Linked DNA regions of Homo sapiens: region 1 is linked to region 2. Evidence: fine-mapped expression QTL. A gene starts in region 2. The other region holds a variant in brackets. All regions are shown on one strand. Distances are from middle to middle. Region 1 overlaps SLC16A2 (solute carrier family 16 member 2). Region 2 holds the start of RLIM (ring finger protein, LIM domain interacting).

Region 1 (9,057 bases), 170 kb before region 2:
ACATCTTGGCCAGGTTCTAACCATCCAAATGGTGAACAGCACAGTTTTATGTTCCAAGAGCCAGTGTTTTTTGCCTTACCCTAGATATTTTGCCTATGGAAAAACTAGCCAAAAGCAAGGTTTCCTTAGATCTGGCCAAACAGCTGCAGGGACCTGGTGGCCTGGATAACGGAGGTCAGCAGGACTCCAGACAGGTTTATTTGCTGCCTTCCTCACAGAATATCTCAAACATGGAAAGCTCAGGTGAAACCGGTCAGACCAGATGTTGAGAAACTGCAGCTTTTAGGAAGAGAAGACAGATAGATCCACAGGCAGCAAGAAGAGAGAATAGGGAGGTAAAAAACCTATTGTTCCAGCTCCTAATCACAGGACCCCCACCCTCATCACACACCTATGGGCTCCAGCATATCACTTGCTCAAGAAGGCAATGGCTCATCTGTGTCCCATGAGTGGATCTGCTTATTATCTCCACGTAAGACCACCCAACCTAAAGGCTACTTTCCAGGCCATAGCTCAACAGAGACTAACATTTGCCTTGAGGCTCTCTTTTTAAAAATGGAATCTGTTTTTAGCACTAAAGGAAAAGATAGCCTTGGAGTGGGAAGTCACAAAGAAGACCCCAAAGTTCAACTCTCCTTTGCCTCACTTTTCCACATGCTTTGTAGTATAGGGTAAGGCACAGGATCTTATAACAGACAGACCAGTGTTAGAGTCCTGGATTTGCCATTTACCTGATCTGCAATCTTGACCAAGTCTGAGCTTCACTCCCTATCTGTAAAAAAGGGGCAGTGGGAGCATCATAATCCCTACCTCACAGTCTTACGATAAGGTTCAAATGAAAAGATGGATGTGAAAGCCCTTTGAAAACAGCTTTGCATTATCATCATGATTACCACATACATAAGTTTATCTATAGACTTGCACATGTGCTTATGCACGTATAGCCAGATTGATATACCACCCATGATGCACACGTGTATAAGCAACCACTTATATGTACAAAACTACACATACATCTGATCTTAAGCCTGAACTCATGACACAGACAATTAAAAGTGCATACACATACACATTTATCCACATGGATATACTTTCTCCTTCTCTCACACACGTACACCCACACAAGCAAATGTATATGTATCTCTGTAAGTGTGTGCATGCATATGTGTGTACATCTATAGCCTCATAGCTGTACAGGTGAGCATACCATACCCTTCAGTTTCTGCCTAGATAATCCAGTTTTCCGGGGGTCTGACAAAGGCCCTGTTTGTAAATTCCTCCACTTGATACTGATAATGTCCCTTTTGCCCTTGCTGAGGCTTCTTCTCTGTCTCCACCTTGTTTGCAGAGTAGCACAGCTGCTGCAAAAATTCAAGCTGCAGTATGTGACATACACATGTCTGGAGAACATGGATCCTTGTCCAGTTGCTCTTTGAATAGCACTACGACTCTAGCCTGCACAGCATATTTATAGCCATGTTTGCAAAGAGCTGACAGCATTTTCAGACTTTTTTCAAAACGTAGTTAATCCAGCCACAAAAATAGTCACTGGCCCATATGCCCCAAAGCTAAAAGAAATTGGGCAGCGTGCCTAATGAAAATTAGTCACAGAGCCTAAATGAAGTTGAAGTTGAATCAAACTCTCTCTCTCCCTCTCATTCTCTCTCTCTCTCTGGCTTGCTCAACTCTTTCTTTCTTTCTTTCTTTCTTTCTTTTTCTTTCTTTCTTTCTTTCTTCCTTCCTTCCTTTCTCTCTCTCTCTCTTTCTTTCTTTCTTTCTTCTCTCTTTCTCTCTCCCTTCCTTCCTCCCTCCCTTCCTTCCTTCCTTCCTTTCTTCCTTTCTTTCTTTTTTTTTTGAGACAGGGCCTCACTCTGTTGCCCAGGCTGGAGTGCAGAGGTGTGATCATGGTTCACTGCAGCCTTGATCACCTGGGCTCAGGTGATTCTTCCACCTCAGCCTCCTTGTGTAGCTGGGACTACAGACATGCACCACCAGGCCCGGCTAATTTTTTTTTTTTTTTTTTGTAGAGATGAGGTCTCACTGGTCTCAAACTCTTAGGCTCAAGTGATCCTCCTGCCTCAACCTCCCAAAGTGTTGGGATTACAGGTGTCACCCACCACACCCAGCCTCACTCTTGCGCTTTCTCTCTCTCTCTTTTCCCTTCCTGCCCTCTCTTTGCCACTGCTTTTTATTCTAAGGATCTCTAAGCCTAGGGTATGTGTGGTGGGGGAGTGGGGGGTGGTACCATGAAGTATATTTGCTTCAAAGAGGTCCTGGGGTCATTAGAGCCTAAGGTTTTGGAGAGACAGGGAGGAGGAAGAGGGAAAGAAGAGGGAAAAGTGAGGGTATTGAGGTTTATAAGCAAGAGGAACATAGTTGGGGAATTAAATGAGGTGAGACAAAAAGGAGAAAAGTTACGCCCACTTTGAGGCCAACTAGAATTTTGGTGGCTGGATAACTTCTCAAATCAAATGGCAGAGTCCTTCAGCCTCCCCTCAATCACTAGAATGTAGGCTAGAAAATTGTTTTGCTTATTTGCAAGGTTGGAACAAAAAAGAATTCCTAGTGATAGAGTTGAAGAGTTAAGCATGGTTAGAGGAGAGCAAGATGGTTTCTCAGGAAGAGAGAGGCCTGGGCTTTATGTAATGGGCTCATCTTAGGTGGCCCAGCCATGACCAGGGTGAGGAGGGTTTTAGAGAGGGAGTAGGGTTATCATATCATTTATTGTCCAAATTGGGACACTTTTGAGGGTGAAAGAGAACTCTATTAACATTTTTGTTGGAACCACAGGCATAAACTAGAATTGTCCCAGGAAAACCAAGATGTGTGTTCATTGTAAGTTTAGAACAAATCGCTCCAGCTTGCCGGGAAAGGGCAAACTATAAGGGCTCCTCACAAGATGTCTTTAAAAAAGGTGTGTATGTGTTCTGTTTTGTTTGTGTGTGTGTATGTGTGTGTGTGTTGGTTTGGGCAGTAGAGAGTAGGGCAGGGAGATTATTCAGCCTTTTCAGCCTTGGGACTGGAGATTGTTTACTCTGAATATAAATTCCTTTTTTTTTTTTTTTTTTTTTGCTGCTGTACATAAATATGTAATGGAGCTCTTAGCCAAGCGTGTTTATTTCCTGGTCAACTTCAGAAGAGAAGAGAGAGAGAGTCAATTGTGGTGTGTGGTTTTGTGTATTGTGTGTATGTGTTTGTGTCAAAGCTGTGGAAAGTATGTATGTGTGTGAGTGGAATTTTAAGTATATCCAACTGTGTGTAACTATGGGCATGCATGTAGGTGTGGATGTGTGTGGACGTGAACACGGATGTGGTAAGAATAAATGAGGGTGTGTGTGTGTGTGTGTGTGCACGCGCATGCATGAGCATGGATAGGGTAGAGTCAGGTCTGACCTCTGGTTCACTGAGTTGTGAACTCCTTAACTTTCAAGGAGCAATCACATAGACGACCACTTTATTTTACACGTGAGGAAAAAGGCATGTGTAACGAGACCTACACACTTTGTTTTTTGTGAGAGGGAGTCTGTCTCTGTCGCCCAGGCTGGAGTGCAGTGGCGCCATCTCGGCTCACTGCAAGCTCCGCCTCCTGGATTTTTTTTTTTTTAGACGGAGTCTGTCTCTGTCGCCCAGGCTAGAGTGCAGTGACACGATCTCGGCTCACGGCAAGCTCCGCCTCCCCGGTTCACGCCATTCTCCTGCCTCAGCCTCCCGAATAGCTGGGATTACAGGCGTCCACCACCATGCCCAGCTAATTTTTGTATTTTTAGTAGAGACGGGGTTTCACCATGTTGGCCAGGCTGGTCTCGAACTCCTGACCTCAAGGTAATCCACCTGCCTTGGCCTCCCAAAGTGCTGGGAATACAGGCATGAGCCACCGCACCAGGCAGAGACCTACACACTTTTACAATTTGCTTGGCAGTGATTGAGAGTATACTAGCAGCAGTCACAATAATCCTGATTGGGAACCAGCTGCTAATCCATGCATTGGAATAAAAGCCCAG[T/C]ATTTATTTAAGGTTTCTGCAAACAATGGGTGCTTGTCAAGGTGGGTTGAGGGAGCTGCCTAAGAGTAAGCTTGAGGTGTCTGTAGGCCTAGACTTGAGCAGAAGGAGATTTGACAAATGGCTGATCCACCAGACCTGTCTCCCTGAAGGACCATGTCCAACAGTGGAAACTTTCCAGGGCTTTGAATATGTTCAACTTCCCACCTCTCCAACCCCACCACCTAGAGATGTGGTTTGCCTTGGAGACAAACCTTGATCTCTATTAGAGATCCACTAGAGGCCTTCACAGGATGTAGGCCAGACATAAGCTGAAAGTGTCCCCAGACTGGGCAATAAGAGACAGGAAAGCCTCCCCCTCACCCCCAGTCTCTGACCTTCCTGTACCTGCCCTTATCACTTCAGGTTCTGGGGCAGGGGAAATGGCTAGAGATGCCCCAGGAGTGTCAGGACTGGCTGTTGAAATGGGAATTTGCAGCCGGGTGCCATGGCTTATGCCTGTAATCTCAGCACTTTGGGAGGCCGAGGCGGGTGGATCACCTGAGGTTGGGAGTTGAAGACCAGCCTGACCAACATGGAGGAACCCCGTCTCTACTAGAAACACAAAATTAGCCAGACGTGGTGGCGCATTCCTGTAATCCCAGCTACTCGGGAGGCTGAGGCAGGAGAATCGCTTGAACCCAGGAGGCAGAGGTTGCCGTGAGCCGAGATCACGCCATTGCACTCCAGCCTGAGCAACAAGACTGAAACTCCGTCTCAAAAAAAAAAAAAAAAAAAAAGAAATGGGAATTTGTGCCCCCAGGAGAAGGGTGGGTGTCAGCCATTAGTCTCATTAGCGTTGGCCGAGGAATTGGTCATGCAAGTTAGGGTAGCCCATTGCTAATGAAGCTAAAATCCAAAACCACTGTTCTTTTCTCATCTGAACAAATTCATCTTGCTTGAACCTCTGTTTGGGCTGTACCCATTTGTCTGACCAGTCACACAAAAGATGAGACAAAAGAGTGTGGGATGCTGCAGCATAGCTCTGAGAAAACAGTCCAGGTCTCATGTCCTAGTGATAAACCAGTTCAGGTTCAGCCAATATTTATTGAGCATTTACTATGTACCTAACATGATGTTAGACTTTTACAAGTATTAATTATTTCATTGAATCCTTACAATAGCCCTGTGAAGTAGGATTAGTCCCATTAAGACCCTCCAAGAGGTCCAGGCGCAGTGGCTCACGCCTGTAATCCCAGCACTTTGGGAGGCCAAGGCGGGTGGATCATGAGGTCGGGAATTTAAGACCAGCCTGGCCAATATGGTGAAAGCCCATCTCTACTAAAAATACAAAAAAATTAGCCAGGCCTGGTGGCACACGCATGTAGTCCCAGCTATTCGGGAGGCTGAGGCAGGAGAATCACTTGAACCCAGGAGGCGGAGGTTGCAGTGAGCCGAGATTGTGCCACTGCACTCCATCCTGGGCAATAGAGGGAGACTTCGTCCAAAAAAAATGACACTCCAAGAGGTGAAGTGGCTTGCTCAAAGTAAAACAGCTAGGAGTGGGGAAGTGAGAATTCAGTCTTAACTCTGCTTGACAAAAAGAAATTATTGAGAACCTACTGCATGCTAGACATTATGCTAAAATGTTTCCATGGGTTATCTCACTTAGGCCTCAAAATAGCTTTATGAGGGGATATTCCTCCCTTTTTTTTCACACATTAGAGTATTGAGGAACAGAAATGTTAAGTGACTCATCCAAGGTCAAGTGCTAGTATTCACAGTAGATCCAGGATTCAACTACAGACCTGTGACTCTCAAGCCGAGGGTCATCTCTTCCCTGCTCCTCTGTGGATATCTGATTCCATATCTAGATGATTCCTAAGGCCCCTTCCAGCTTTGACATTCCAGAGGTCAGCAACTCTATGGTAATCCTTCCCCATGAACTCGAGCAGCCTCGGGTCCCTTGGCTGTAATCTGCCATTCTCTCCTCCCCACTAGGCTCTCTCCATGTGTGGTGCAGAAAAAGAGTGGGTGAGTGACCCCCAGTCAGCTCGGGCTGAGTTGGCCCGGGGCTCTGACTCAGCTGCCTCACTCCTGGCTCCAGGTCTCAGGTGAGGTACTTTCTGTAACAGTATCCAGAAGGTGCTCTGGGTTCTAGGCCTGGGCCCTGTAACTCTCCGCCTCCTGAGAAAAACAGGAAATATCTCTTTAAATTGGCAAATAAGAAATTCCTGCAAAATGGGCTCAGGGAAGCCACTCCATTCCTTGTGTGATTGTGCCTGTGTTTGTGTGCGTCCTTCTCTGAGTGCATGATACAGCTAGGAGGAGTTGCAGACAGAGGCTAACCTTGATTCTGCATTGTCCACAGCCTTCCTGGGTGGGCTGAGATGAATATTTCCTTCCCTGCCCGCCCCATCATACCTTTTCCTCTTGGAAGCTGCTGATGGATTTTCTATCCCCTTCTGCATCTTGAGCAGAAGAGGAAGGCAGTTTGGCTCACAGAGTAATATTATCCACAGTCTGGTACCAGGTGTGTATGTGTGTGCATGTGTGTCTGGGGGCAGGGGCAGGAGGAGGTGGTGGTATTAGGCTGGCTCCAGCAGAGCACTGCTCAGGGTCTGGAATAAGCTAAGTTGCTTGTGGAGGCAACATCTGAGGGAAAGGAGTTTCCCTGGGAGACCCCTGAGTAGCACTTAGAAAATTAATATGGGGAAGGGGCTGTGGTTCAGATACAAAAACCACTCATTCTTCATCTTCTCTTATCCTCATGCTCTCTGTATTCCCTCTCCATACTGCCTCCCTCTTCAATCCTGGCTGTCCTGGCACCATATCCTGCCCCTGACTCCTCTACCCTTGTTATTTGTTACAGGGGAAGGAGCATGCCACAAGGAATCCGAAAGCTTGGGTTCTACCACTATCTGCAAATTTTACCAATATCTCCCTCCCTCTTCAATCCTGGCTGTCCTGGCACCATATTCTGCCCCTGACTCATTTACCCTTGTTATTTGTTACAGGGGAAGCAGCATGCCACAAGGAATCCGAAAGCTTGGGTTCTACCACTATCTGCAAATTTTACCACTATCTCCCTCCCTCCCTGACTTTGGGAAAGGTGCTTTACTGCCCTGAACCTCAGTTCCCTCATTTGTAAAGACCAGCCTGTTTTTTAAAGTTTGACACAGGGTTAAATGGGAAAAATATATGGAAAAAACATCTAGGAGATTTCTGTTGCTTGTTTTGAAGATCAAATGAGAGAATGACCTGGAAATACTTGGCGAGCCCTAAAGTACTGTTCAAAAAGGAGGAGTTGTTATTGTTAATATTCCCTGCTGCCTGACTGCCCTTCCATATACACAATAATGCAAATTTGCCCAGCCTAGCTTATATCCTGTCCACCTCCACTGTTTGCTGTAAAGACGAGGTGATCATCTGCTTCTGTAATGTCTATGTCCATGACAGGGAATCACACAGGATTCTCACAGGGTCCTCTTTCCTCTTCCATGGACAAATGTAGCTGGGCTTTTCTGCACAGAAAGACCTTGTCATCACACCCACAGGAGCGGTGACAACCTCAAATCAATGCAAACCATAAGAGAGATCTATTTGGGAAGTTGCAGCTTGTCTCTGGATATTATTATTAGCCCATTATTGCAGATAAGGAAATTGAGACGCAGAGAAGTGAAGTAAAGGGCACATAAATAATAAGTGGCAAGTTCTAAGTTGCGTGTGTGTGTGTGTGCTTGCACATGTGTGCATGCATTGAGGTGGGTAGGAAGTTTTTCTGGAAGCATATGAGAGGCAAGGGATCTGGATTCGCTATTAAGATAACCATCAGTCTCCACGAATCAAATAAAACCAGGCAGCAAGCCTAATAAAAATTAAGCAATGGATCAAAAAGATACTGACTGTGCACTACCTTTCTGCCTCCTTCTCTATTCGGCTTGTGTTCCTGCAAGAAGACTTATTTCATTTCACTATATATAGCACATTTTGCTAGATGCTATGATAGGAGAGGGTCAAGGGGAGATAGAGAACGATGTCTCATGTCTGTATGTCTTATGTCTGTATGAGCAGACATACATACACTCATGCCATACTTGAATCAAGGTAGACCATGACAGATCTACCTTGATTATAAACCACTATATCTCTCCTTATGAAGCATTATACTCAATTGTTAGCTCTTACTGTTAGAGCTAACAATTGAGTATAATGCTTCATAAGGAGAGACATAGTGATTCTAGCACCTAACACAATGCACTATACATAGTCAGTGCTTGATAACTTTGTATTGAAATGAAATGAGGGCCAGGAGTGGGAGAACATGAGCTTGTTTTGGGGAAGGCATTGTGGGCAAGAGGGGCCAAGTGGTTCATGCCTCTCACTCCAGGCATGCTGGGCAAAGCCAGGATCCACTGCTGACTTCTCAGGCCTTATTTGCAAGGCTGCTTTAAAGGTGCTTTGTGTTTGGGTTTGTTTTCTGACATCATTGTTCTTAGCAACCAAGGTCAGATTTTTAGCTTTTCCTTTGACTGCTAACCATGCCCCTCTGCCTAAGAAATCCCACAGGAAGCCTCCAAGCTTCACTTTGCCTCTAGACACCTGGCAAATGACTCTCCCACTTCCTTGCCCTGTCCACAGACTCTGATGCTAGTTGCGGGTGCCAAGATTTTTTTGCCCCCTCCTCTTCCCCTGGGACCAATCAGATTTCTGAGCTCCAGGGTAGAGCCACACTCTCACTGATCCTCTGTCCAAGTCTAGAATTCCCAAAGCATGGTCTGCCTCATCTGTGCTCCAGGTGCAACTGGGCAGGATAAATTTCTCACACATTGGTCCTGTCCTTCCCTGGGAAGCCTGGCTTTCCCACTCCCACTTACCTAAGTCAATTCTCTGCTTTAAGGCTGGGCGCGGTTGCTCACATGTGTAATCCTAGGACTTTGGGAAGCTGAGGGTTGAGCCCAGTAGTTTGAGACCAGCCTGGGCAACATGGCGAAACCCCATCTCTGCAAAAAAATACAAAAATTAGCCAGGTGTGGTGGCACACGCCTGTAGTTCCACCTACTTAGGAGGCTGAGGTGGA
Region 2 (9,057 bases):
ATACCTCAATTGGCCAGTCGCGGTGGCTCACGTCTGTAATCCCAGCACTTTGGGAGGCCAAGGTGGGCAGATCACAAGGTCAGGAGTTCGAGACCAGCCTGGCCAATATGGTGAAACCCCATCTTTACTAAAAATACAAAAATTAGCCAGGCGTGGTGGAGAGCGCCTGTACTCCCAGCTACTTGGGAGGCTGAGGTAAGAGAATTGCTTGAAACCAGGAGGTGGAGGTTGCAGTGAGCCGAGAGTGCACCACTGCATTCCAGCCTGGGCGACAGAGTGAGACTCCGTCTCAAAAAAATAAAAAAATAAAAAATAAATAAATAAAAATACCTCAATTGATAAAAAGAGAAATGAATTGCTGGATTATCTGGGAAACTTTCATGTTTGAGGCTGAGAAAAAAAAATGAAAGAAAAATAGATACAGAAGTGTTATTACTTTCTTATATTGGACATCAGAACTTCAATTTATTATGTAAACTAGATACTTTCTGAAATCAATGGGCCATAGGTTTTAGAAATCTTTGTGTTAAAGAAAAACCTGTCCAGTTCTAGGCAGTGGCACAAAATTCTAGGCCCTCATTGGTTTGGGTTTGACAGAAGACTTTTTATTCTCTAATTTGTCATCCACTCTATGGTAAATGAAGAGAACAGGAGGCTGGCTGGTGATTTGCTCTATTTCTAATCCACCATGGCCATGGAAAAATTAATGTACATATAATATAATTCCATAAATGCAGATGCCTCATTTGACCTACTACTATATTAAGGCTCACTACATGTTCACTAACCTCAAAGATATCCAACCAGCCTAGTATTTCCAGATCATTTAATTATTAAGCTATTTCTTAAAATCATTTCTGATTTTAAATTAAGTTTATCAAATGATATACAAGGAGCTATCCATTTAACATCTATCAATGAGCCCATCCAATTACAGGGCCTGTGAAATAGAACAATAAATATGTGTAAACATGCATAATAGCTGAAACAGGAACGTAACAGACGAAAAGGGGGGATTGCTGGATAACCTTTAAGTATTAACAAAAGTTTCTGATGCAACATAACCTACAGACTTTTTACTACAACCTTTCATTTTCATTGCATTTCCTATCTAATTAGACAGCAATCAAACCCAGAAGTATAACGTCAGACAGGCCTGGGATAAAATGAGGGCTCCACCACTTAAAGCTATTTAACTGAGGACAAATTATACTTAACCTCTTTGGGTTTTTGGTTTCCTCTATAAAAGTTAACATTCTCATGAGGCTCTGTTGTGAGAATTATAAAATAATGCATATAAAGCACATGGCCTAGCACCACAGGCCTTCAGCAGAAGTTGGTTATGAATTTAGGCTAAGTATCCATCCCAGTTTGTCGGGGACAATCAAGGTTTGCACCTGCTGTCCAGGAATTATTAATGTTCCTTTTGTTCTTAAAAGTGTCTTGGTTAGGCAATAAATTATGTGGTTACCCTAATGATGATGATAATAATAATGAAAGGAGTCAATATCAATTAAAAGTATCATGTATCAATTATGAATTTTTGAATCTTAAAGGAAAAAAATCAACCACCACACACAAAGTAACGTAAAATTATACTCTCGTAAGCTATTCTGATATTTCATTTAGTTATCCAATGAACATTTAAATGTTATTTTACTTATACTCATGCCATTCCAACAATGATATAAGACAACAAATTTTTTGTTGTTGTTGTTCTATACAGGTATTGGTAAACTTCAGACATTATTTTAAAGAGTCAAATTCACAGATAAAGCACTGGTGAGTTCCAGGTATCCAGAAACATTACCCTTTTAATTCCCAGTGAAAAGTACCCATTCTTATCATGAAGAATACCCAACACCATCTAACATCTATCAATGAGCCCATCCAATTACAGGGCCTGCAAAATAGAACAATAAATATTTGTAAACATGCATTCTACACATAAATCATCAGGAGACGCAACAAAAAATAAATTACCTGACTGTTATGACATAGTATTGAAATACAATAAACTGGATTTTAGTTTTCTTCACTCTGCTCTAGAAAAAAAAAGAATCCATTATTCTTCCTCTTTAAAAAGATACACATTTTCTTTGAATTAGACACAACCTAAAAAAAAAAATACAGACACACCATAACCCAACCTAATTCAATATTAGTATTAGGGCATTTGGGGAGAGCAAGAAGGTCAGAGGGGACCAGGAGTTAGATAAAAGATGTCTTCTAAGACTGAGAGACAATTTACGTTTTATTATAAGCTTGCTTAAAATAAGCCTTTCCTTATCAGACCAGTAATTATTTTCAGATTCTGATAGTCACTTTCAAGGACTTATCTGGCACATTACACTAGCCTAAGGTAGGAACTAAAGTATTAAAATTCATCAGAACATCATGGACTAAAAAAATCTTTGTAACATTTTTCAGTAAGTGGAGTGTGTCCTAAAATCAAGTTTTAAAAAGTGGATTGGTCTTTCTAGCTACCTAAGCTATATTTCTACAGTTTAGAAAAGTCATGGGGGGGGAGGGGTTATAATTGTGCCAGTCCTCCAGGGAAGATACAATGTACTTAATGGGGTGATAAGTAGTTACTCTGTCTATAATCACGAAGAATGAAAGAAATGATTAGTAGCAGTAGGTTTATTATTTCTTCCCCCTTTCAATCAGTCCAAAACACTGCGGTTAATTCTGATTCAGGAAATGCGGGCTCCTTACTTCTGGCAAAAAATCATTGTGGGGTCTTGCAAATGGAAGATGACAATCTGATACAACTGCTTCCTCTTGCCCCAAAATGAAAAAAAAAATGACCTCAATAACAAGACTGCTAGGCCTCAGATTCCCAGACTAACCTGTGGAATAAGTATGGTGAAACTGTCTAGGGAAGGAACGTGGCTGTCTCCTCCATCTTGAAATTAATCAGCATAAGGGAAAAAGGGACCGAGTATTCAGGAAGCAGAAGCCCAACCGGTTAATACTAGTTACTAAGCTATGGCATGCGTGGCAGGTACCGTCTGCAGAAGCAGAGACCCCCCTAGGCTTTTTTTTTTTTTTTTAATGGGGGAGGGATTGAGTTGTTGGTGGATTAAACACAAATTAACTTGAAAATTTGGCCCAATTCCATCCCTTATCCAGGAGAACACAACAAACACCTAACGGCTTTTCCCTCTCTTTTGCGGGGGGATCCTTCCAGTGATACCTGGCAAAGGATATGCCAGGGTTATTCGAGCAAGGGAGTAAACCACATTTGCCTCAGATCCTCAGGGAAGATGTCATCGCGGCCCCAGGGGGCGCCTAATTGGTAATACCCTGCAGAAGGGCTCAAAATGAGGTTTTGGAAATCTAAAGGCCCAAGAGTTGCCAGCATCTCACTTGGGGCAGCCTGATTTTTTACTTCCCTTTTCCCAAACCCAAGCCCGCCATGGAAAACGCGGGGAGGTCAGGGAAGCCTCCAGAGAACAGAGAAGAAAAAGCCTGAGACGTTCTAAGATTCTGACGCCTGAGGCCAAAACTCAAAAACTGCCTCCCCCGATTTCCTAAGGCTCCGGAGGGCCTGGGCTGCAGCTCGCGCGGCCACCGAGAGGAAGTACTACCCACCTCCTTCCCCTTCAAAGAGCCTGTCGACTATACCACTCAACTAAAATGGCAGCGGCGACTACGCCACGGAGCCCCCCGCAGCAACGGGCCTGGGGTCCGGAGGCGGCGCTGAGCCTCTGCCACGACGCGTCACTCGGGCCATTTTGAGAGAACGCGGCAGCCGCGGCTCCGCTGTCTTCCTCTCGCTCTACATCATTTCTCACAGGATTCCCAAGTCTTCACTTACTAGGTTTTAGGGTCAGGATCCGACTCGGTTGGTTCGGCCGCCGCCGCCGAGGCTGCTCCGCACCTCCCTGGCCGCCGCTCTCAAGCCCGCCTCCAATGAGTAGCTGGTTGAGACCCGCCTCTAGCCCAGCGCCTGCTCGGAGACGTTGCTCAGGCAGCCATTATCTTCCCCATTGTTACCAAGCAGCGACAGGAAACGACTGCCCACAACAGGAAGTGATGATGCCGCGTCCCGGCACCGCAGCCCCACTCCCAGCCTATTAGCCAATCCCAGTCGATTCCTCGAAAAGGCTCCGCGGGAGGAGGAGGGGGACGGCAGACGACGCGGCAAGGCGGGCGGCGGTTTGGAAAAGGAAAGCTGTTATGACGCCCACCATGTGACAGGCCCCACCCTCCTCCGCCATTTTGAATTGTGGCGAGAAATTTGCGTTCTGAGAATTGTGGGAACCTTCGCTTTCCCATTTTGAAAACTGAAGGACGTCACGGTCTGACTGCTTGAAGACATTTTCAGAGAGAGAGAAATGTGATATTAGTCTACCCTGACATCACATCAGTTCACACAATCCGTGCAGACCAGTTCAAAAAGTAGCCTGCGTTTTATTCAACATGTATTTACACAGTGCCAACTGCATGTCAAGCACCATTGTAGCTGCTTAGGAAATTAAAATAGACCAAAATTAAGAAAGAAAACAGGCCACGTTCGGTGGCTCACGCCTGTAATCCCAGCACTTTGGGAAGCCGAAGCGGGCGGATCACCTGAGGTCAGGAGTTCGAGACCAGCCTGGCCAACATGGTGAAACCCAGTCTCTACTAAAAATACGAAAATTAGCCGGGCGTGGTGGCGGGCGCCTGTAATCTCTGCTAATCGGGAGGCTGAGGCAGGAGAATAGCTGAACCCAGGAGGCGAAGATTGCAGTGAGCCGGGATCTCGCCACTGCACTCTAGCCTGGGTGACAGAGCAAGGCTGTGTCTCAAAAAAAAAAAAAAAAAAAAAAAGAAAACAGATCAAAATCCCAGTTCTCTTGAGTCTTTATAGGGGCCAGGGACAATAATTTAGAAAAAATCAAACATAAATACATATCATGTTAGTGATAAATGCCAAGGAGAAAAATCAAGGAAGGGGGACAGAAGAGTTCCTTGTAGGGACAAACGGATTCGTGATGTTTAAAAGACTGATAACTTTGAGGCATTAACTCTAAAGTATTCGAAAAAGGGCGGTGATTGTAAAAGGGTGGGAAAATCTGATAACGTTGGGATTTGTAAAAGGGCAGTTAAAGAAGGCCTTTCTTAGGTAGTAATGCCTGAAAGAATTGAGGGAACTCGCCACACAGCATGCCACTCCCATTGTCACAGTTAAAGGAAAACCTTACCCAAGTTTTTAGATTCTTTTCCTTTTCCCAATTTTTCTGTTTTCCAATAGCATGCCAGCTATGCTGGCTTTGTTACGGTTTTTCCAACAAAGCTAACTTCTTCCTACTTCAACTACTTTACCTTTGCTGGAATATTTTACTTTCATATCTTTGCTTTCATCATCCAAGCCTCGCAATTATTAACTTCCTAGAGAAGCCTTCCCTGACCACCCTACCTAAAATAACTTCTTCCTGAAGGCGGAAAAAGGTCTGAGGAAAAAAAAAAAAAGAAAAAAGTAATAACGACTTCTCCCATCTCCTTACCTGCTTACTTTTCTTGTAAAACACTTAATCTGAAAGTAAGTTATTTATTTGTTTGTTTACTTCACCCTTTCTGAGCAGTAAACCTCTCTGTTTTGTTCACTGTTGTGTCCCCAGCGACCACATAGTAAGCCCTCAAAATACTTTGGGAGAATTACCCCCTCACCATGATGGATGTTATATCAGCCTGGAATATAAGTATTTCACTCCAAGCAGTTAAAACAATATCCCTCATACTTACCTGCCCAACTCCCTAGAAGACTCATTGATATTGTCATTTTTGGCAGAGGGATACATGATTTAGGCGCTGTGTCTCTACTCAGGTTTTTGTCTTATTTTACATAATCATGTACTAGAACGATTACCTAGAACGTGTAAAAGGAATTCTTCAGTAGCCTGCAATTGCCATTAAGCCTGATATTCTGATTATGGCAATAACATTAGCCACTCCTTAACGTATTCTTGAGGCTTATGTGGCTTAATCTAAAATATAAAATCATAAAAGAAGTGGAAGAAAATACAGGTTACTATTTCTGTCCTTTCTTCCTTCCTTCCTTCCTTCCTTCCTTCCTTCCTTCCTTCCTTCCTTCCTTCTTTCTTTCTTTTTTTTTTTTGATGGAGTCTTGCTTTGTTGCCCAGGCTGGAGTCCAGTGGCATGATCTCAGCTCACTGCAACCTCCGTCTCCTGGGTTCAAGCGATTCTCCTACCTCAGCCTCCCCAGTAGCTGGGATTGCAGGCATGCACCACCACGCCTGGCTAATTTTTGTATTTTTAGTAGAGATGAGGTTTCACCATGTTGGGCAGCCTGGTCTCCAACTCCTGACTTCATGATCCGCCTGCCTGGGCCTCCCAAAGTGTTGGGATTACAGGCGTGAGCCACTGTCCAGGCCTAGGTTAATATTTCTATAGCCTTGGGGATGCAGAAGCACTTTTGAAATACAACACAAAATCCATAATGGGAAAGACTAATAAGTACAACTTCATAAATAAAAGTAAACCTTCTAAATGTCAAAATACAAGGTTGGTAAAGTTAAAAGACAAATGATAAATTGAAAAAAATCATTTCATAATGACATATTAGAGCCAAGGGGTAATATCTTTACTTAATAAAAAGACGAAACACTAGCAAAAATGTTACATATGTGATAAACACATATGGCTAATATCAGCCTATAAAGAGTTGTTAAACATTGATTTTTAAAAAGATAAATACCGGCCGGGCGCAGGGGCTCACACCTGTAATCCCAGCACTTTGGGAGGCCAAGGCAGGCGGATCACAAGGTCAGGAGATCAAGACCAGCCTGGCCAATATGGTGAAACCCCGTCTCTACTAAAAAAAATACAAAAATTAGCTGGGCGTGGTGGCGTACTCACTCCTGTAGTCCCAGCTACTTGGGAGGCTGAGGAAAAGGAATTGATTGAACCCGGGAGGCAGAGGTTGGAGTGAGCCGAGATCATGCCACTGCACTCCAGCCTGGGTAACAGCAAGACTGCATCTCAAAAAAAAAAAAAAAAAAAAAAGAGATAAATACCTCCATTTCAAAATGTGCAAGGAACATGAATGGATAATTCATAAAAGGATAAAACACGTGGCTGATAAGCATATGACAATATATTCTTTTTTTCTTGTTAGTAAATAACCTTGTACTTGAAAATATATTCAGCCTCACTAGTAATTAATCAAAAATAAAAACAATGAGGTACAACTATTATGTATCCATAATAATTAAAAAACAATAGCTGGGTTCGGTGGCTCACGCCTGTAATCCCAGCACTTTGGGAGGCTGAGGCGGGTGGATTGCCTGAGGTCAGGAGTTTGAGACCAGCCTGGCCAACATGGTGAAACCCCGTATCTACTAAAACTTCAGAAAAAAAATTAGTTGGGCGTGGTGGTGGGCACCTATAATCCCAGCTACTCGGGAGGCTGAGGCAGGAGAATCGCTTGAACCGGGAGGCAGAGGTTGCAGTGAGCCGAGATTGCGACATTGCACTCCAGCCTGGGCAACAAGAGTGAAACTCTGTCTCAAAAAAACAAAACAGAAAAATTTTATGAACTAAAAAATTTTTTAAAAAGTTCCTTTTTTTGCCTGTTAGAATGTCAAGGATAAAAAATCGATAATATTAATTGTTGATGAAGATCCTATGAAATGGGCACATTTGTATTGCCAGTGGGACAAATTGATATCAGTTTTCTTTTTTTTTTTTTTTTTGAGACAGAGTCTCACTCTGTCACCAGGCTGGAGTGCAGTGGCGCAATGTCGGCTCACCGCAACCTCCACCTCCTGGGTGCAAGCAATTCTCCTGCCTCAGCCCCCCGAGTAGCTGGGATTACAGGCGTGCGCCACCACACCCAGCTAATTTTTGTAGTTTTATTAGAGACGGATTTTCGCCATGTTGGATAGGATGGTCTCGATCTCTTGACCTTGTGATCCGCCCACCTCAGCCTCCCAAAGTGCTGGGATTACAGGCATGAGCCACCACTCCCAGTTTTCTTAAGGCAATTTGGTAATGTGTTTCAAAAGACTCATATTCATAGTATTTGACAAACATGTCCAGGTACAGAAATTTATTTTAAGGAAAGAAGTGGACAAATTTGCAAATATGTATGTAATGAATGTGCAAAGATGCTAATTACAGTGTGGTTTATAACATCGAAATATTGACAAATCAGAAAAAATAACCATCCAACAACAATTAGTTATAGTATAACCACATAATAGACTACCATGTAGCATTAAAAATAAGTACCTAGAGCTGGAAATACGTTCAGGTTACTTTTTTTTTTTTTTTTTTTGAGACGGAGTCTCACTCTGTCACCCAGGCTGGAGTGCAGTGGCACAATCTCGGCTAACTGCAACCTCCACCTCCTGGTTTCAAGCGATTCTCCTGCCTCAGCCTCCTGAGTAGCTGGGACTACAGGCTCGTGCCACCACGCCCAGCTAATTTTTGTATTTTGAGTAGAGACGAGGTTTCACCATGTTGGCCTGGCTGGTCTCCAGCTTTTGACCTCGAGTGATCCACCCACCTCTGCCTCCCAAAGTGCTGGGATTCCAGGCATGAGCCACCGTGTCCGGCCTCAGGTTACGTTTTTAATGAAAAAAGCGATTTACAATACAGCTTGTGTGACTCCATTTTTATTTAAAAGATATGTATAAATATGCCTAGAAAAAAGCCTAGATGAGCATACATTTTTAGTCACTTTTATGTTCTTTTTTTTTTTTTTTTTGAGATGGAGTCTCACTCTGTCACCCAGGCTGGAGGGCAGTGGCATGATCTCGACTCACTGCAACCTCTGCCTCCCGGGTTCAAGCGATTCTCATGCCTCAGCCTCCTGAGTAGCTGGGATTACAGGCGCCCGCCACCATGCCCGACTAATTTTTGTATTTTTAGTAGAGATGGGGGTTTCACCATGTTGGCCAGGCTGGTCTTGAACTCCTGACCTCAGGTGATCCACCTGCTTCGGCCTCCCAAAGTGCTGGGATTACAGGCATAAGCCACCGCTCAGGGACCATTTTTATGTTCTTTACCCCTTTCAGTATTGTCTTCAACATTTTACAATGTGCA

What was found.
Region 1: its variant is fine-mapped to the expression of RLIM in whole blood (TOPMed, PIP above 0.99).

What each region holds. Positions count from the first base shown.
Region 1 is chrX:74,437,473-74,446,529 of GRCh38, forward strand. The region is part of intron 1 of SLC16A2 (solute carrier family 16 member 2); the gene reads left to right. Among named protein-coding and RNA genes, the nearest start is that of SLC16A2, 21 kb to the left of the region's middle. The variant T/C (reference allele first, on the strand shown) is at 4,002.
Region 2 is chrX:74,610,599-74,619,655 of GRCh38, forward strand. RLIM (ring finger protein, LIM domain interacting) reads right to left here and starts at 4,026. Exons shown (of 4, transcript NM_016120.4): 1 at 3,824-4,026. RefSeq lists an enhancer at 3,631-3,950.